Linked DNA regions of Homo sapiens: region 1 is linked to region 2. The links come from fine-mapping of genetic effects on gene expression. A gene starts in region 2. The other region holds a variant in brackets. All regions are shown on one strand. Distances are from middle to middle.

Region 1 (8,000 bases), 52 kb before region 2:
AAGCCTTCCCTGACCTCAAGATGAGGTCAGGGTCTTTTGTTATAGGCTGTCACAGGGAGGTTTACCACAGATCACTCATTTCAGGGTACAACTGTGAATCTGCCGTTATTCGAATGTCTCCCTTCCCCCACTAGACAATTAGCTCCGTAAGAGCAAGCACTTCACTCACTGTTAGTTCCCTAGTATTCAGCACAATGCTCAACATAGTAGGTACTCAATAAATATTTACTAAAAGAAAAAAAAATGAAGGTTAGAAACACATTTAATCGGAATAATATTTGTATCTTTCTCTAGATAACATCTAAAGATGTTAATCAGGCCAGAACTGAGTGCAGGGCCTATTAGTGATTCTCAATCATGGTGCCCATTAGACTCTTGGGGAGTTTTTAAAAAATACTAATGCCCAGGCCCTGTAACTGATATCTTGCATGTAGAGCCTGAGTATCAATATCTTAAAAAGCATTCAGGTAAGCCCATTGTGTGGCAGGGTTGAAAACAACTGCTCTAAATTATTTTCCATTCAGTCCACATTTTTACACCTAATTCACAAGCCAATCATAAGAAGCTTGGCCAAATACCCAGCTAGAACCCACACATACCTTGGCTCTAACAGGTCTCCAATTTCCTTTTTGGGCCTAGAGGCCATTTCAAAAAGGGAAATGAGTTCAGTCTGTCATGCCTTCTCCATGGCTTCTCCTAGCAGGTATGACTTCCCTTTCTAGTACTCATAGGTATTTGCTAAGGATTTTGGGCCGGGTGTGGTGGCTCACACCTGTAATCCCAGCACTTTGGGAGGCCGAGGTGGGCGGATCAATGAGGTCGGGAGTTCGAGACCAGCCTGACCAACATGGAGAAACCCCATCTCTACTAAAAATACAAAATTAGCTGGGCGTGGTGGGGCATTCCTGTAATCCCAGCTACTCGGGAGTCTGAGGCAGGAGAATCACTTGAACCCGGGAGGTGGAGGTTGCAGTGAGCCAAGATCATACCATTGCACTCCAGCCTGGACAACAAGAGCAAAACTCTGTCTCAAGAAAAAAAATAATAAATAATAATAAAATAGAGGTCGGGTGTGGTGGCTCATGCCTGTAATCCTAGCACTTTGGGAGGCCAACACAGGCAGATCACAAAGTCAGGAGATCGAGACCATCCTGCCCAACATGGTGAAACCCCGTCTCTGCTAAAAATACAAAAAAATTTAGCCGGGCTTGGTGGCGGGCGCCTGTAGTCCCAGCTACTCGGGAGGCTGAGGCAGGAGAATCACTTGAACCCAGGAAGTAGAAGTTGCAGTGAGCCGAGATCGCACCACTGCACTCCAGACTGGCAATAAAGCGAGACTCAGTCTCAAAAAAAAAAAAAAAAAAAAACAAAAAAAAAAACTTTGTTAAAGGGCCACAAGGAGACTCCAGTGGAAGAACCAAACCACCAAACCTATTACCCACATGGGTCTTCACTCCCAGCCCAGACAGAGCATTTTCACCTTGCTGCACTGTCGCACTCCTGCACTGTCATGCTTACCGGTCTGGTAAATGGGTAGCAGCTGGAGGGAATGTAGCTTGATGTCATCAGACAAGACATAGGACGAAATATCAGGAGCAAAACGTCTGTGGGTTTAAAAAGACAGAGAAAGGGAAAAATATAACTTCCATGTACTTTAAGCAGGCATATATACATAAAATGCTGGTAAAAAAAAAAAAAGCACTATAATACCTATAGAGCAGGTGCTGAAAGTGGGAATATTTTCTTTTTTCATCAGCTAATCCCGTAGACTCCAGTGTAACAGATAATCCAGACTGTTCACTTTTTTCACCAAGAAGTTCCAGGGGCTTCTGGCAGATGACAAAATCATCTGACTCAAGCTGTGAAATTTCATTACTGATGCCTTAAAAAAATAAAATGTAACAGTCCTGCTTGAATGAAAATTAGATTTTACAACATCCTCTCACCAATTAGACATATAGTAATTTCATTTATTTATAATATGCACACATTTACAAGGCACTGTGGTTGTGAAAAGACTTAGCACTTGCTCATTTAATCTCCACAACTGATAAAGTACAACAGGGTAGGTATTATCATCCCCATTTTACAAATGAGGATGTTGAAACTCAGAGATGGTATTATTAACCCAAGGTCATTCAACTAGTAACTATGAGGACTAGGACTAGAAGCCCCTCATCTAGCAGTGGTTGTTCCATTACTTCTACTGATAAATATATTCACATGCTACAGAGTAAGCTATGGACAGCCAGATCATAAAACCAAATCCCATGAAATAGGAATAACTAAATCTATAAATAACATGGCCGGGCACCATATATACCACAGACCTTCAGACTGCCAAAGGTGAAGGTTTTCTATATTCCTAAAACAAGAAAGCAAGTCAAATTCATTATTTACCTTCTTCTGTCCGTCTTATTCGATTGTTGGTCTTATGTGGATGGTGGTGAACTCTCTCTCCATTTTTAGGGCCTGACTCCAGTTTTACGATTAAGACTTCTAAGTCTGACATGACAGCAACATATCCAACACAAAAAGAAACCTCAACAGGAGTGATATTATCTATGTGTATAATTAAAGAACGTTCAAAGTCCAATAGTGAGAATTCCTCATTAATGATCTGGTACTTCAAACTAAATAAGACTAATTTATTTGTGCAGCCAACGAGAAGGTCTCCTTTCACAGGGCAACAGGAAATGCACAAGGGGGCCTCCGAAAGCGGCATTTCAATAATGTACATCTGGTCTCTGAAGGCTTTGCTGAATGGTCCCTCCACATTATGCCCAATCATTCGGATACACACACGAGAGTTTTCAGTCCTTTTATTTCTCCAGTTCACATAAGCACGTAGAAATGTAGCTTTGTTTTTCTCTTCAATTGCTACCAAATAATCTCCTGAGAAGGAATGAAGATTATACTGAGAATTTGTAATTAGAAATACAACCACCTCCCTTGCTGACATGAGTACTATTAATGAATTCTAACACAAATGGTCGAATTAAAGACTGAATAGAATAAAACCCTAAGTAACAAAATCTTAGGTGTATTTTTGACTGACATTAGGCTTTGAGGTTCTGAAATGCAATCTCTCCCATCTGAGTGTCTTAAGACAACCTATTAATTGCCCATGTAACATACAGAAAGTTCATATAAGGAATAAAATGTAAAATTAAGTGTTTACTGTAGCTCTAAATCTGCAGTTCTAACAAAGCTCTACTGACACAGAATTCACTATTAGGGTGACACCAAAATTAGGTATACATTAAGGAATTCTCAGATTAGCAGAATTTACATTTCAAACCCTCTCCTTCCCACAAGTCACAAGTCTGAGAAACAGGATAAAGTTGGAAATAGCAAAGAAAATACAGATCCAAGTTAATTTTCTCTAAATTGTTGATTGTATAAGTTTTAACTTATAAACATATATTGGTTGTGGGAAGTCAAAATGGTAACGTGGTAAAGAGATGCAAAATGAAAAGCATAATGATCTCCCCCTTGAGGACCCAATGTTAACACACAGCCTGGTATGTGCCTTTCAACACCTTTCTCTCATATAAACAGAGATCACAGAGAGGTATTCTGTCTTTTTTAAAAATGAACAAAAACTAAAATGTAATCATATTAAATATATTTAACAATCTGCAACTTTTAAAAATTATTAATAAATCTCTCCCTCCAGGCTGATACATGGATATCTAACATCCTTTTCAATATGTTCAACATCCCATATGTACATACATACGCATAATTTATTCAATAATTCCCTTACTGATAAGCATTCAAATATATTTCCAGGGTTTTTTGCCACTATGTTTCATAGTAATACATAGGCTTATATCTATATATTTATTTACTGGGGGATTTATTTTAACGGTACAGATTCCCAAAAGTGAGATATGTTGGGCCAAAGGGCATGGGCATTTTAAATTTCAATATTGCCCAAT[T/G]ACTATCAATTAGATAATAGAAATTCATGTTACCAGCAGCAGTGCTTAAACACACCTGTTTCCCCACATCCTCACTAGCACTGACTCTACACAATGAGAGAAACATGGACTCTCACGGCTATTATAATTTACATTTCCTAGACCTTTTTATAAAGCTGGCCATCTTTTCCTACGTTTATCAGCCATGTATAGTTTCTCTTCTGCATGATGTCCAATTTTTATTAAGTTGTTCATTTGTTTTTCTTATCATGACACTGTAGCTCTCTACTTAAAAGGGATATAAACCTTTTGTCGTCTATAAATAGTAAATGGTTTTAGAGTCTATTTTCTGATTTTGACTTTGCTGATGGCATGTTTTACCATACCCTTTTTATTTAGAGTATACTATATGTATCTTTTCCTCCTTGCCTTCTGAGTTCCCATCCATGTCCTCCAAATTACATAAATATGCTCCTATATTTTCTTCTATTTTAGTGGAGGTTTAGAAAATATACATTTTTAATCTTTAGAATTTTGCGGGTAAAGAAGGAGATAAGTCAGAGGATCTAATGTCACTTCTTCCAAATGTAGACTCTATTATATTAACACTATTAAGCAAATTGGCCCTTTTCCGATGAATTGAAATTGAAATGCTGCCATTACATTGACTTCCCATGTACTTATGAGGCAAGCAAACAGGTGCTGCCCCTTTCTGCAGACATTCACTGGGCTGACCAGGCTCCCTCCTCCAAAATGATCCTGACTTCTACAGGTAGCAAGCTTTCTCCTGATGATGGTTCTTTTTATGCCACAGAGATGGAGCCTGAACCTGTTCTTTCCCTGGAGATCGTAGAATGCCTAAAGAGATCCTGCAGGTGCCCTAAGTTTGTTCACTTTTCCAGGGAAGCAGTTTGGACAGAGTTGGGATGAAGTTGAGGCCTCCATCTTCCTAAAATTCCCCCAGTAAATAAATAAATTTTTTTTATTGTAGTACGATACACACAACATAAAATGTACATTTTCACCATTTTTAAGTCTACAGATCAGTGGCACTGGTATCTTCTCATTGCTATGCAACCATCACTACCATCCATCTCTATAACTAACTTTTTCATCTACTAAAAAACTCTGCACTGATTAAATAATAATTCCCTATTCCTCCCTCTCCCCAGGGTGAGACCACCATTATACTATCTCTATGAATTTGACTACTCTAGGTACCTCATGTAAGTTGAACCATATAGTATTTTTCCTTTTGTATCAGGCTTGTATCACTTAGCATAACTTCTCTAAGATTTATCCAGGTTGTGGCATGCATCAGAATTTCATTAAGGCCAAATAATACTCTATTGTATGTTCATACAATATATTTTATTTACTCATTTACTTGTCAATGGATCCTTGGACTGTTTCCACCTTTTGGCTCTTGTGAATAATTTTGCTACAAACATTGGTGTGCATGTATCCATTCAAGTCCCTGCTTTCAATTATTTTGGGTATACACCCAGAAGTGGAATTGCTGGATCATATGGTAATTCTATGTTTAATGTTTTGAGAAACTGCCATATTGTTTTCCACATAGGCTGTGTTATTTTACATTCCTACCAGCAACGTTTAAGGGTTCCAATTTCTCCACATTCTCCCCAACACGTTAATTTCTGTTTTATTAATAACAGGCATACTAATGGGTGTGAGGTGCTATCTCACTGTGGTTTGGATTTGCATTTCCCTAATTATCAGTGATTTTGAGCATCTTTTCTTATGTTTTTTGCCGTTTATGTATTTTCTTCTTTGTAGAAATGTCTATTCAAGTCCTTAGCCCATTTTTTAATCAAGTTTTTTTGGTTGTTGTTGAGTTGTAAGAGTTCTTTATTGTATATATTCTAGATATTAATCCCTTATGAGATATATGATTCGGAAATATTTTCTCCCATTCCATGTTGTCTTTTCAATCTGTTGATGAGTCTTTTGATATACAACAGTCATTAACTTTGATAAAGTCTAGTTTATCTATTTTTCTTCTGTTGCCTATACTTTTGGTATCATAATTTAGTAAATAAATTTTAAAACTAAGAATATTTAATTACAATAAAACCTTTTTATTCATATACCTATAAATACATGCCCATTTCATCTATAAAATTCATATATTAACTAATGTTTATAGTATGCAAATTGTAGATAGTGTCCATGTTGTATTGTGTGCTTTCAGATTAATGACCTGGTCTTTAAATGATGATCCAGCACTTGCTAAATGTGCCTGCCTGACAATCCTTATGATCAGAGCTTTAGAGTTCCTTCAATTAACTCTCACAACAGCCCTTTAAGATACAAATCTCCCTCCTCATTTTATACATCAGGAATCTGAAGCACAGACAAGCAAAGTAACTTGTCCAAGGCAACACAACGAACAAATTAGGAAACTGGGACTCAAACCTAGATCTGGTTAGCTCAAAAGTTTATGTTCTTTGCCCAGTAATGCTGTTTCCCCAACTGATAGAAGGGAAATACAACTCTACAGGAGTCTGTGGAGGCTATAACCCTTTAAAAGAGAAGGGAACTAAATTTTTTAAGCTTTATGTGTGCAGTGCCTCATTTTACCTTTTTTAAATTTAAGTGTCTTGCTCCGTTGCCCAAGTTGTCTTGGCTCACTGCAACCTCCACCTCCCGGACTCAAGTGATCCTTCCACCTCAGCCTCTCAAGTAGGTGGAACTACAGGTGTGAGCCACCACACTTGGCTAATTTGTGTGTGTGTGTGTATATATATATGTATATACATATATTATAATGTGTGTGTGTATATATATACACACACACATATGTAGAAACAGGGTTTCACTATGTAGCCCAGGCTCAGCTTCTGTCTTTATTAAGTACATTGAAAAATCATTCTCATTTTTACTCTTGAGCTTAGAGTTACTGATTTTTAAAAATAAGTAAACTTTCCCTTTTATGTAGCAAGATCACAAACATGGCTAACAGTAATACCAGATCAAAGGCTGTACTCCTATGACAAAATTGAATCACAAGGCAGAAATAATTTATAAGGCATCTAAATATGTTTTATGACTCCAGGAAAACTGAGAGAAAGTAGGGCTTGTGGGAGGGGTAGATGGGCTGGGGCTGGTTTAGTACACTTGTGCTAATGGCCAGGCAATTACAGCCTTGTGGTCTGCATCCTCCATGCCCCACCACCCCTAGACACCCCATAAACAAGTGTCTACCACCAAAGGTCCCCATACAGCACTCAACCCTGGCCACCAGGTCTTTCTCTTTCAGGAGTGAGGAGTTCTCAGGTCTCCCCTCTTCTTTGCTTTACACACTGTATTAGTCCATTTTCACATTACTGCTACAAGCAAATACCTGAGACTGGGTAATAAAGAAAACAGGTTTAATTGACTCGCAGTTCTGCATGGCTGGGGGGACCTCAGAAAACTTATAATCATGGTGGAAGGCACCTCTTCACAGGGCGGCAGGACAGAAAATAAGTGTGGGTAGGGGAAATGCCAGACACTTAAAAACCATCAGATCTCATGAGAATTCACTATCATGAGAAACAGCATGGGGGAAACTGTCCCCATGATCCAATTACCTCCACCTGGTCCCGCCCTTGACACGTGGGGGTTATGGGGACTACAATTCAAGATGAGATTTTAGCTGAGGACACAGCCAAACCGTATCACACACAAAGCCTAAATTTATTTTCCCTTACTGATGACGATGTCAGAGGTCCCCATCCTTCAAAATTTCTACCTGCTTTCTCCCTAATACCCCCAAATTTTATTTTAAAAACTTTCAGCTAATTTGAGATTTTTTTTAACCTGAAAATGTTTTCTGCTTGAGTAGAGACCTGAAAAGCATTTTTAGTAAACATAGATGGCTGATGTAAGATTCTTTCCATTTTTGAGGAGGAGACTTGCTACAGAGGAGGACACTGGGCATTGAGCCGGAATCCTCATGTCCCAGTTATTGTGAATGGAAGGAAGGGGCCAAAAGGGAAAAGCTGTGAAGTGGAAAACAAGTTATCTGGATACCATCATAGCCAGAGTCAGCTCTATTTATGTTCATTTGTGGGT
Region 2 (13,462 bases):
TTCTTCAAATTTGAGAAATGTGTTTTTTTGTGAGGTTTTTTTCTTAACTTTCTAAAAGGCTATTTGAAATAGCAAGTTAGCAAGTTAAACCTTAATTTTAGGGTTAGCATAAGTATTGCCATACGATGCAATAGTTTGGTGAATTGTGATAATAATTTTAAAAAGTCATTTACAGCCAGGTGAGATGGCCCATGCCTGTAGTCCCAGCTCCTTGGGAGGCTGAGTTGGTAGGGCAGCCTGAGTTGAGTCTAGTTTGGGCAACATAGTGAAACCTATTTTCTAAGAAAAAAGAAAACCAGTGAATTACTACTACGATGTAATTGCTCACTTTCTAGGCTGGGTGCAGTGGCTCATGCCCGTAACCCCAGCACTTTGGGAAGCTGAGGCAGGCAGACTGTTTGAGCGCACGAGTTTGAGAACAGCCTGGGCAACATGGCAAAACCCCATCTCTACAAAAAACACAAAAGTTAGCCAGGCGTAGTGGCGTGCACCTGTAGTCCCAGCTACTCGGGAGGCTGAGGCACGAGAATTGCTTGAACCCAGGAGGCGGAGGTTGTAGTGAGCTAAACGCACCACTGCACTCCAGTCTGGGCAACAGAGCAAGACTCTTGTCAAAAAAAAAAAAAGGTAGTATTTCTTATATCAAAAGGGCATTTAGAGTTGAAGTTTTAATGTTCTAGCCATAAAGGAGGCAGAAAGCCTGGGCGTGTGGCTCATGCCTGTAATCCCAGCACTTTGGGAGGCCGAGGTAGGAGCGTAGGAGGATCACTTGAGCCCAGGAGTTCAAGACCAGCCTGGGCAACCTGTCTCTCCAAAAAAAAAACGAACAAACAAAATTAGCTGGGCATGGTGGTGTATGCCTGTAGGCCCAGCTACTTGGGAGACAGGTAGGAGGATCAATTGAGCCCAGAAGTTTGAGGCTGCAGTGAGCTTGTTTGTGCCACTGCACTCCAGCCTGGGCATCAGAGCAAGACCCTGTCTTAAAAGAGGAAAAAAAAAAAGGAGGCAGAAAAAATGTTTATTAATCCTTGCAGTTTTCATTAAAATAAAAAGATTACTTTGGTATGGCCATGACAGAAACCCTAAATCATTCCAGGGCCTAGAGTGGTACTTCCCTGAAGCTGGGGAAAGGACCCTGGGCAGAAAGCAAAGGAGGGGGCAGATCCCTGGCTGGCCTGATGCCTTGCAACCCTGGGCTTGAGCCACATAAGAGCATTTAGTGAGTCAAGGCCTAAAGGAGGAGGGAACAATTATCTCCTGGGAAAGGGCTATATAATCTGGAACACCACAGATTTCTCAGACGCGGAGTTGAGATTAGAGTGTCTCCTACCGCTTGATGAAACAATTCAGTCTACTTCAAGGACGTGCACCTGGAAAAATGACTGGCTTCTGGAAACAGTGTTATTCTGCTATTTAGGAACAACCCTGCTGATTGAGCCTCAATAAGGAAAATAGGCCTCAATCAACCATATTTCTTAAGTGCTAGAGGACTCGTTAGACAATAACTCTATTACAACAATAAGAGCACTTACTGAGTGCTTACTCCAGGGCAGCACTTCATATTCATTATATTATTTAATTAAGAAGATTTTTACTTGGCATTAATTTAATATCACTTTGGCCCTGTCAGCTGTGGTTTTACTCAGGATTTTGTCCAAAATCTAGAGAAACCTGATTATAAGAAAATTTAATAAGTCACAAAATATTATATTTTCTTTTCCACTGCATTGTCTTGGTTATTTAAAAAAATGGTTCAGAAATAGTATTGTACCAATGTTCATATCCTCATTTTGGTCATTGTACTATAGTTATGTACGGTATTAAAATAAGTGGCATAAAGGATATGAGGCAACAATTTGTACTAAATTTGTAATTTTCTGTAAGTCTACAATTAGATAAAAATAAAGCTGAATAATAGTTCATCATTTCTTTAATAAATTACTCATTTTATTTTATTATGGCAAAAAGAAATACATGTTTAATGTAGCAAATATTTTATATACATATAAGTAAAAAGAAGAAAATGAAAATTCCCTAATTTAACCAGCTAGAGGTATTTACTATAAATATCTAGGTATATCTTCATCAAGATGTGTGCATATGGACATATAGCATGTATGAATTTCAATCACTGACTATATTTGCAAATGTAAAACTTTATATTTCTTTATTGAACTTAATTTTTCTTAAACCTTCATTCTGCCTAATGGCAGGTAACCTAATTTAGTCACTTCTGAATAGTTCAGTCATTTTAAGATTTAAAGTCATTTAAATTCAGCTTTCAGATTTAGTTCCCTTCGTCTTACCCACCAGGGAGGTTATATTTGGACTCCATTCATCTAATGCAGTCACCCATTGCAGATGTAACTCATCTCACCTCACCGTTGGGGACCAGCATCCTGCTTTTGTTTGCTAGAACCATAATCCTGATGATGCCCTCCAGCCTTCACAGGGCTAGAGGCTCACAAGGCTACCCCGGGTCCCCTTAACAGAGCCACCTCAGTCACCTTTACTCCTTTATTGCCTTGGCACATTTCTAGTCTCTGAGGTTCTCTCTGAGATCTGCAGAATACTGAGGCCACTCTCTGGGAAATGTGGCATAGCTTCCTTTTCTTGTGTAATCTACAGAAACTTTGCTAGACTTTCTAGCATTCTCCCTTTGTGCAGATTGGCCCAGTGTGATGGTATTCTAGGTCTTCTCTCTAAGACCCACTTAAGGGATTTACTCTGCAAACCCTCCTGCCTGACATTCTTGAAAATTCTCCTCAATTGAACTTTTATCTCCTTTGGAGTGAAAGAAGCGAACAAACAAGCAAGCTCTTACATCATCCTACTTTCTTCAGTCTATGAGTTATGATATAAGCTTAAAAGTTTCTGTATTGAAGCCAGATTTCTAGATATTCAGATTCTTCTCTTAAAGCCCCTCCCTGCTGCCTGGTCCCTGCCCCCACACCAATGGCTTTAAAATTCTATTTTGCAAAGTGTAAAAAACATTTTTTTTTGAGAGGGAGTCTCGCTGTGTCACCCAGGCTGGAGTGCAGTGGAACGATCTCGGCTCGCTGCCATCTCCGCCTCTTGGGTTCAAGTGCTTCTCCTGCCTCAGCCTCCCAAGTAGCTGGGACTACAGGTATGGCACCATCACCCCCTGCTAATTTCTGTATTTGTAGTAGAGACAGGGTTTCACAATGTTGGCCAGGCTGGTCTTGAACTCCTGGCCTCAAGTGATCTGCCCACCTCGGCCTCCCAAAATACCAGGGTTACAGGCGTAAGCCACCACACCCAGCCTAGAAAAGGCCTAGAAAAAGTGGCTCACGCCTGTAATCCCAGCACTTTGGGAGGCCAAGGCGGGCAGATTGCTTGAGCTCAGGAGTTCGAGACCAGCCTGGCCAATGTGGCAAAACCCCCTGTCTACAAGAAATACAAAAATTAGCCTGGGGGTGGTGGTGCCATGCCTGTAATCGCAGCTACTTGGGGGCTGAGGCTGGAGAATCGCTTGAGCCCAGGAGGTCGAATCACGCCACTGCACTCCAGCCTGGGCTACTGGAGTGAGACCCTGTCTCAAGAAAAAAAAAAATTTTTTTTTTGAGACAATTGTGAACATTTGATTATGAACTAGTTATTAGAAGATACTAAGAAGTGATTTGTTATTAATTTTGCCAGGTCCATGGTTTTTAGAGAAATTAGTGAAGGCCATTATAGGCAGGGTGGGTTGGGAAGTGACCCGAGAAATGAAGCTACTGTGGGAGGAAGAGCCACATATGCCATTCTTGGATTTCAGGCTCACTGAATCAAACGGGAGTGACATGACATGATTAATTTGCATAAAGGTTCTGTGTGTGTGTGTGTGTGTGTGTGTGCACGGGCATGTGTGTGTGTGGCTAGGGGTGCAGATGAGAAGTGTGTTTGTGACTGGGAAGTGGCTGGCTGGAGAAATTTTGGATTCCTTTCCTTTCCATACCATTCCTACCTAAATTTATCAGTGAACATTTTGGTTCTCTTGGCTTCATCACCTTCCCTTTCCAAGCCACCACCATCTCTTATCTGAACACAATAATTTTCTATCAGTTGCTTCTATCCTTGTTTCCTGTAATTCTCCACAGAGCTGCCAGCATTTTTAAAAGCCTAAATCAAGTCGTTATCCTCCTGCTCGAAACATTCAATGGCTTTCCATTGCAGTTAAAACACAAATTTTACTGGAGACTCTTAAGTTCCTATGTAACCTGGCCCTTATCTTCCCCACCGTCCTTTTAGTGCCACTTTCCTTCTTACTCACCAGCCAAACCCCACAAGCCACCCTACAGTTCATTTTCCAGTTACAAGTGTTCATTTTTCATATCTACTTGTGATGCTGTTATCAGAATAAATCAAGAAAAAACCAAAAAAGTTAATTTTTCAGAAAACATTATTTAGTATAATAGTTTTGAAATTGTAATTGCTGTAACATTTTAATCAAACTAGTACAAATTGTACTTGATCTTTAAATATAAAACAAAGAATGATTAAGGGAAAGAATGTTTTACTCCTGGTTCTGGGATGTGAAATATTGATAACATAGAGAAAACATACTGTGGGAGGAAGAGCCACATATGCCATTCTTGGATTTCAGGCTCACTGAATCAAACAGGGGAGTGACATGACATGATTAATTTGCATAAAGGTTCTGTGTGTGTGTGTGTGTGTGTGTGTGTGTGCGCGCGCGCGGGCATGTGTGTGTGTGTGGCTGGGGGTGCAGATGAGAAGTGTGTTTGTGACTGGGAAGTGGCTGGATGGAGAAATTTTGGATTCCTTTCCTTTCCATACCATTCCTTTAAATAGCAAATTTTAGTTCATTCAAAGCACATTCTTTAACCATGGGACAGTCATTATTCATAGATCTTAAGTCTTTTTATTTTTTTGAGATGGAGTCTCGCTCTGTTGCTCAGGCTGGAGTGCAGTGGCTTGATCTCGGCTCACTGCAACCCATGTCTCCCTGGTTCAAGCGATTCTCCTGCCTCAGCCTCCCAAGTAGCTAGGACTACAGGTGCGTGCCACCACGTCTGCTTAATTTTTGTATTTTCTTAGTAGAGTCAGGCTTTCACCATGTTGGCCAGGCTGGTCTCGAACTCCTGACCTCAGGTGATCCACCCAACTCGGCCTCCCAAAGTGCTGGGATTATAGGTGTGAGCCATTGCGCCTGGCCAGTCTTAAGTCTGAAAGAGCTATGTTCTCATATTTGGAATTTTTTCTTTGTCTAGTGAGCATGACTTTCTTACTCTTACAAAACATCAATTTGAGCAATTTCTGGCATATTTTCCAAGAATTTATTTAAAATCTGGCATACTAAAAGCTGAACTGTATTGCCATTTGCCTCAACACACTTCAAGAAGAACATACAACAATTAAAATAATTTGAAATGCCATTGTCTTTATCTTCCTCATCAACTTTGGTCAAATGAAATAATACATTGTTTCAAATTCTATTGCTCATCCATGGTTCATGATTAGAGATCACTACAGTTTATTTACGATAATGAACAAATGTGTCTTGAAAAGCTGACTACCGGCCTGGCACGGTGGCTCATGCCTGTAATCCCAGCACTCTGGGAGGCCGAGGCGGGCGGATCACCTGAGGTCAGGAGTTCAAGACCAGCCTGGCCAATATGGTGAAACCCCGTCTCTACTAAAAATACAAAAATTAGCTGGGCGTGGTGGCGGGCTCCTGCAATCCCGGCTACTCCGGAGGCTGAGGCAGGAGAATCGCTTGAATCCGGGAGGCGGAGGTTGCAGTGAGCCAAGATCACCCCCATTGCACTCCAGCCTGGGGGACAGAGCAAGACTCCATCTCAATAAAAAAGAAAAAAAAACAAAAAAAAGAAAAAAGAAAAGCTGACCACCTAATATTATTGTGCTGACAGGCGTGTAACATGGACCTCTCTGTGACGCGCAAGTATTATCTGGCAGTTACATGGTGCCGCCTGTGCAGCTGGGCGCCACCACCAGCTTCCTGCCCTGTGCGATTAAAAGGCCAGCTTCGGGGACAGCAGCCTCCTCAACGCAAAGCGACCAGCCCTGCCAGGCGTCGGCTGCAGCTGGTCCAAGGTTGACGGTCCCAGGGCCGCATTCTCCTTCCGGTCACCTCAGACTCTGGAAAGAGAGCCATGGAGGGCCTCAGAGCGCCCCTCTGCAGTTCCTTGAGGAAAACAAGGGCCTCCCCCTCTTGGCTGGAGCAGCCAAGTGCCCACGGGGAAAATGGTCCCGTCCACCATTTCAGGCAAACGCCCCCATAGCTGTAATAAACATGTGATGGGTTTCCTGCACCAAGAAAGGAAAATTTTCCTTAAAAATAACAAAAAGAGGTGGGGAGGGGACTCTAAGTTCCATTTAAGATTTTCCAAACTCGTTGTGTCTCATGCATACGCTGAGGCTTAACATGAAAATTTGGAGCGAAAGTCCCCACGGTTCACCACAGGGAATGAAGTAAAGTATCTCGCCGGTAGCTCTAGGTCTCGTAAACCGTGGAGCTCCTTTAGTATAAGGCCCTATTATGTGCCACATTAGATGAGAAGAAAATAAGAGGAAGGATACGGTAGAGCCTTTAGAATGGGGTTCAGTCTTAGGACTCGTAGGATAAAGGAAGGTCGTTTCCCTCCGTTTGAGGCAGGGAATCAAACAAAACACCGGCACCGCAGGCACCGCAGTCGCACTCCTGGGGCCTCGTGGCTTTCCCGCGCGCCCGCCTTGGGGGCGGGGAAGAACCCGGATGGAACCACCCTTGCAGCCCGGACCCCCCGCCGTCTTTGAATGGCAGCGGGGCGGAGTTGCCCTCCCTTCTGTGCTCTGACTGGTTTGGCTCCGCACTCTCCTCTTCGTGATTGGGCTTTCCTAGTGCCAGTCACAGAGCGACGCTGGTCTCCCAGATTGTTGCAGAAGGAGACGGCGTCGACGTCTGACTGGACTCGCGGCGACTTACCTTTCAGTCGTGCGCTCCTGATCCGGCGCTCGGAATTTGTCCCCGGCTTCAGGGCTGCGGGGCCTGGAAGGAGGCGTATCGAGGCGGCTCGAAAACGATCCAGGGGAGCCGAGGCGCTCCTCTTGTCATCCCACTCAGCGCCATGTCCTGGATGTTCAAGAGGTGAAGGGGGCGGAGGGGGTGGGGCGCTCGGTCTAACGGCCTGGAGGCGTCCCCAAATGAACCTGACCTTCCCCGCGTTCCTCTGCGTTCCCTGGGCGATTTGTGCAGCTGTATTCGTTCTGTTGGTCGCATATGTGGCCGCCGGAGAAATAAATGCATTGTCTTCGCTGGCGAGTAGGGGCTCCTAGGGCGAGTCCCGTGTTAGGGACTTGGGAAATCTCTGTCACCGACTGTGGGGGGCCTGGGGCTTAAAGCATCTCGGCCAGTGCTTTATTTAACAAAACATCCATTAGATACCCACTGTGCGCCAGGCATTGTGCTCGGTGGAGGGCCGAGTAAGACAGTCCTTGTCCCCAAGTGGCTCACAGCTTATCTGTATGCACAGACGTGCAGATAAGTATTTGCAGAGGCGCTAGTAGAGATATGCGCCACTTGCAAGGAAAACGCATCGCAAATAAGCGACTGTTCTTAGGAGAATGGAAACTTTTTGCAATGCTCCAGTAGACTCCCCTTCACTTTTCATTGTCCAAATTGGTATTTATGGTCATTCCCGAAACAGTTACACCTAATGGGTTTGGGGTTATGCTTAAACCGGCGACGGAAGGCGGGTACGGGTGGCTTGGGGCCAATTTCCCACGGTGGCGTGGTTTGGATACCAGAATAGGTGTTCTGCTCGCAGGGAGTTACAGTGATGGATGCTGGATGTATTTTCTGGAAAATTATAAACAACTTCTGGTACATTAATAGTTGTATTTTTATAAGTCTTTTATATAGCTCAATCCCTATTGAAATTTTGGCATATGATTTCATTTTTTAAATTATTTTTTTGACATGGAGTCTCGCTCTGTCGTCCAGGCTGGAGTGCAGTGGCACAATCTCGGCTCGCTGCAACCTACGCCTCCCGGGTTCAAGTGATTCTCCTGCCTCAGCCTCCCGAGTAGCTGGGATTACATATGGGCGCCACCACGCCTGGCTAATTTTTGTATTTGTAGTAGACAGGGTTTCACAATGTTGGCCAGGTTGGTCTCAAATTCCTGACCTCAGGTGATCCACCTGCCTCTGCCTCCCAAAGTGCTGGGATTCCAGGCGTGAGCCACCGCATCCGGCCCATAATTGTAGTTACAGACATCATATACATATCAATTTAGATGATTTTCACTGGGAAAGAGGTTAGTGAACTCTGACTAGGCTTTTCATTTTGAATACCTAGGGGGCAGGTAGAAGAGCCAATATTGAAAACAGGTAGAGTTCCTAGAAGCCTTCTCCACTCACTGCAATTCCTGCTTTAACGAGAGTAACTATTAATCTTTACCGTGATTCCCATGTAAGATTTCATTTGCTGAAGTAAAGCATGAGAAAACTACTCATATGGTCTTTGGAAATACTTAAATATTATATTGTTTTTCTTTGCCTTTAAAAAAAAATAGGGATCCAGTTTGGAAGTACTTGCAGACTGTCCAGTATGGAGTTCATGGAAATTTTCCACGCCTCTCATATCCAACTTTCTTTCCACGTTTTGAATTCCAAGATGTTATCCCTCCAGATGACTTTCTAACTAGTGATGAAGAAGTAGATTCCGTTTTATTTGGAAGTTTGAGAGGTCATGTGGTTGGACTACGCTATTACACGGGAGTAGTGAGTATAATAGTAGATAATTAAATTTTGATTATATTTCTGGCGTTAACCTAGAAAATAAGAGAATTCGCAGGTGATGTGTGCGGTTAATCTTTATTTTACTTTAAGTTAGTTAAATATTTGTACGCAAAAAATAACAAATACCTTAAGTGACCCTCCCACCTCAGCCTCCCAGAGTGTTGGGATTACAGGAATGAGCCAATATGCTTGGCCTCAGTGCGTTATGTTTGGTTATTATGGGTAGCACCCCACCCCCACACCCCAGCGCCTTGTTCATGTCATCGATTTGTTGCAAAAAGGAGATCGTTTTGTGGAATCTTCTGGATTTTATTCTTTCATTTCTCCGTATGTTTCTTATGTTTAAGCTTCTCAATAGGGTGTCTGAAGCATGTTCGACAGGAGATTCCTTAGGAGTTTCATGTTCTGGATTTGTTTTTCTCCTGTATTTCCTTTACATTGGAACGTTTCAAATTGTTTTTTGATTGTCTGAAATGTGTTGTCTAGGAGATTCCTTAGGAAGAGACAATATTTCCTAAGTTTTTATATTTTCATACTTGTGGCATTTTATGAATGACAGTTTCATAAAATGAAAGTTATGAAGGACTTAATGACAGTTGGGCTGAATTTAAAATCTTTGTAATATATCTTTGTAATAAAATCTTTGTAATAAAATCTCCATATCCTAATGTTGCATAGAATTCTCAGGCCAGTGTGATTTTCTTTCACTTAAGTGAATTGGATTTTTTTTTTTTTCTTTTTTTTTGAGACCAAGTTTCGTTTTGTTGCCCAGGCTGGAGTGCAGTGGCCTGATCTGGCCTCACTGCAATCTCTGCCTCCCAGACTCAAGCAATTCTCCCAATTCAGCCTCCTGAGTAGCTGGGACTGCTGGCGTTCACCACCATACCCAGCTAATTTTTGTATTTTTTTTTTTTGTATTTTTTTTTAGGTTTTGGCATGTTGTCCAGGCTGATCTGGAACTCCTGGGCTCAAGTGATCCGTCCGCCTTGGCCTCTCCAAGTGCTGGGATGCTGCACCCGGCCTCTAATTTTTTCTAATAGATTCTTGAACTCTATCAGTTCTTATTTCACATCTATATATTCTCTGGCTCTCATATGCATTTCTGAGCTTTTCTGTTTCAGATTTGTGCTAATTTTTCAAAACTTACATTGCTTTCGATAATTATTTTATACCACCATGAAATACTAGATTATGGTAGTTATTGATCTTAGAACAATCAGTATTTTTGATCTGAGAATAATCTCTATGACTTCGGTAAACTCTAGTGTGTGTTGATAAAAAGTAATCATCAGTTTTCTTATTTTGCCAAATATATATACTTTAAATTTTATTTTTTTCCAGGAACACTATGTTGAGATATCATTTATTTTATAATTAATGCATGTTCTTTTATTTGTTTTTGTTTTTTTTTTGAAACGGAGTCTTGCTTGCATTGCCCAGGCTGGAGTGCAATGGTGCAATCTTGGCTCACTGCAACCTCCGCCTCCCAGGTTCAAGCGGTTCTCCTGCAACAGCCTCCTAAGTAGCTGGGATTACAGGCATGCGCCATCATGCCCAGCTAATTTTTTGTATTTAGGAGAGATGAGGTTTTGCCATGTTGGTCAGGCTGGTCTTGAACCCCTGACCTCAGGTGATCCACTCACCTCGGCCTTCCAAAGTGCTGGGATTACAGGCATGAGCCACCGCGCCCAGCCACGTTCATTATTTTTAAATGGCTAAAAAGGCATTAAATCTTCTGAAGTCTATCATCCAGAACCATAACTTATCTTCTACACTTGTTTCTGTGAGCATGTGCATGTAAATTGGAATCATATTATGTATTAATAAAAATGAGATCATATTATGCCTAATGTGATTAGGAATATCATCTATATTGGACTTATAATTTCCTTGTTGATGGACATTTTTGAGTTAATCACTATTATAAAAATAATAAAAATTGAGATACTATCTTTGCATACTTGTTATTTTAATTTTTTTTCTACTTTATTGAGATGTGGTTTACGTATGATAAAATGTACATATTTTAAATGTATGATCCTAGTGTTTTGACAAAGATGTATACCTGATAACTACTACCCCAATCAAGATACAGATTGTATCCGTCTCCCTCAAAGTATCTTGTATCCTATTGCATTCATTTTTCCCTGTTCCTGCCCTAGGCAGCCACGAGTCTCATTTCTTTTCTTTTTTTTTGTTTTTTTTGAGACGGAGTCTCGCTCTGTTTCTCAGGCTGGAGCGCAGTGGCGGGATCTCGGCTCATTGCAAGCTCCGCCTCCCAAGTTCATGCCATTCTCCTGCCTCAGCCTCCCAAGTAGCTGGGACTACAGGCGCCTGCCACCATGCCCGGCTAATTTTTTTGTATTTTTGGTAGAGACGGGGTTTCACCGTGTTAGCCAGGATGGTCTGTATCTCCTGACCTCGTGATCCGCCCGCCTCGGCCTCCCAAAGTGCTGGGATTACAGGTGTGAGCCACTGCGCCCGGCCACACAAGTCTTCTATCACTATAAATAAGTTTTGCCTATTCTAGAACTTCATATACATTGAATTCTACAGTATGTACTATTTTAAGTCTGGCGTTTTTCACTCAGCATAATTTAGGTACTTCTTTGGTCTATTTTGGTTAGTTACATTTTTGAAGAAAAGCATCCATTTTATTTAGATATTCAAACTTATTCCCATAGAATTGTGCATAGTAATCATTTATCCTTATAAAATTGTAACTGTAATTTTCTGGAATTGGGGTTTGGTGGTATGATGTGTTGCTCACAAGTGGCCAGAACTCCTATTCCTGAAGGATTTTGAATTGGAGGAACACATACTTAAACTCCCTTTTATGCCTTGGTTCTAGTTACTCTTTCCAAGTTGAATAACCATTTTTTTGGTTGTTTTAAGTTGGTGCTCTGAACCTTAAATTTCAGTACCCTTTACTCTGAATTGTCAAATTTTGATAAAATGTGCCATTTTTTTAATGTCTGCCAGAACATAATTTTATATGCCTTATTGGCTCCATTAAACTTTTTAAAAACTTTTTTAAAAAGGTGATTATATTCCTGTTTTTATTCTTTGTGTTACACATTCGTGTCTTTTTTATTGATTAGCTATGACATTATTTCTTTTCAAGGCAGGCTCTCTTGAATTTTTCTTAATGATTGTGTTTCTTGGCTTAATAATTACTCTTACATTCGGTTTTTCTACTTAGATTTATTTTCTTTTCATTTCTGTTGGACTTGCGATTTGAGCACTTAATTTGAGTCATTTAATCTTTTAATCTTTAAACGTGTTAAGTATTGCGTTGCCTTTAGCCACCACGTTTTGTTATGTAGTAGCATTCTTTATTTTTAACTCTGGTGTTTTCTTATTCTTATTTCATTTTTATTTTTTGTTTTTTTTTTTTTAGTGTGTTTTCAATAAGCATATGGTTAAGTTTATTTTTTGACCCATCAAAGGCTTTATTTTATAATGTGGTTTATTTCTTTTTCTATTTTAAAATACAGTTATGTGTTGCTTAACAATGAAGATACTTTCTGAGAAAAGTGTTAGGTGATTTCTTTGTGGAAACAGAGTGAACAAGATGTTACTTTACTGAATACTGTGGGCAATTGTAACACATTTGTGTATTTAAGCATATATAACATGAAAAAAGTACAGTAAAAATATTGTATAAAATATGAAAAATGGTACACTTCTATAGGGCAGCCCCATTATAATCTTGTGGAACAACTGTTGCATAATGCATGTGGTCTGTCATTGCTGAAATGTTGTTATGCGGGGTATGACTATACTGTTATGATTAATTCTCATTCCTTTTGTTATTCTTGTCTTTGTCTTTTTGTTTTTTTATATGTCCTGTTTTTTCTTGCTGCTGGGACCATGTTTTTGTTTTTATAGTCTCCAATATTTTGGCTCATATATATTTTATTTAAAATTCTAGTAATTACTTATTTGTAACGACAGTTAACTAATTGTAATTAATGATAGCTTATTATGATAAATTACAATTATGTAATACCTTGAGATGAAATGCTCAAAAATTGTTAGTTTTGTGCCCTGCTTTTTTATTTTGGTTATGTATTTTCTAGGATTTGCATAATCCGGTTTAAAAAAGATCATCCTGTAGGCAGTGGCAGAGGGGTGGCGACTGGGAGAGAACATAGCTCTGCCTCATAGATAATATCTCTAAAAGTCTAGAGATGAATATCTGTCTAATACTCTGTTTAGTTCTGGCTGTAATCTCTTGAGTCAGTAGACATGCTGGGAGAGGTTTGAAGCAGCTTTCTTGTATATTTTCAAGGAATTTTTTAAAATTGAGATACATTTATTATAAAATTTACCATTTTAAAGTGTACAGTTGAGTAGTTTTTAGAATACTCACAAGGTTGTGCAACCATCCCTACAATCTAGTTCCAAAACATTTTCATTACTCCAAAAAGAAACCTCATTCCCATTTGTAGTCACTCCCATTATCTCTACCCCTCAGTCCCTGGCAACCATGAATCAGTCTTCTTCCTGTGTATATGGATTTACCTCCTCTTGACATTTCACGTAAATGAAATGATACAATATGTGGCATTTGGGTCTGGCCTCCAATACTCATTTTTATGTTAAATAGATTTTTTTTTTTAGTGTACTATTTTAATTCCCTTGTTTCTTTTACTATATATTTTGAGTTACTTATGATTGCTTTAGGGATTACAA

Evidence for each region.
Region 1: its variant is fine-mapped to the expression of HLTF in thyroid (GTEx, PIP above 0.99).

What each region holds. Positions count from the first base shown.
Region 1 is chr3:149,134,899-149,142,898 of GRCh38, reverse strand. HPS3 (HPS3 biogenesis of lysosomal organelles complex 2 subunit 1) reads right to left here. Exons shown (of 17, transcript NM_032383.5): 2 at 2,401-2,895; 3 at 1,711-1,882; 4 at 1,519-1,604. Among named protein-coding and RNA genes, the nearest start is that of HPS3, 9.3 kb to the right of the region's middle. The variant T/G (reference allele first, on the strand shown) is at 3,945.
Region 2 is chr3:149,079,966-149,093,427 of GRCh38, reverse strand. HLTF (helicase like transcription factor) reads left to right here and starts at 6,895. Exons shown (of 25, transcript NM_003071.4): 1 at 6,895-7,111; 2 at 8,539-8,746. The coding sequence starts at 7,092. It overlaps HLTF-AS1 (HLTF antisense RNA 1), which reads right to left and starts at 7,096. Exons shown (of 3, transcript NR_046648.1): 1 at 6,950-7,096. RefSeq lists enhancers at 6,533-7,050, 6,936-7,145, 7,051-7,568.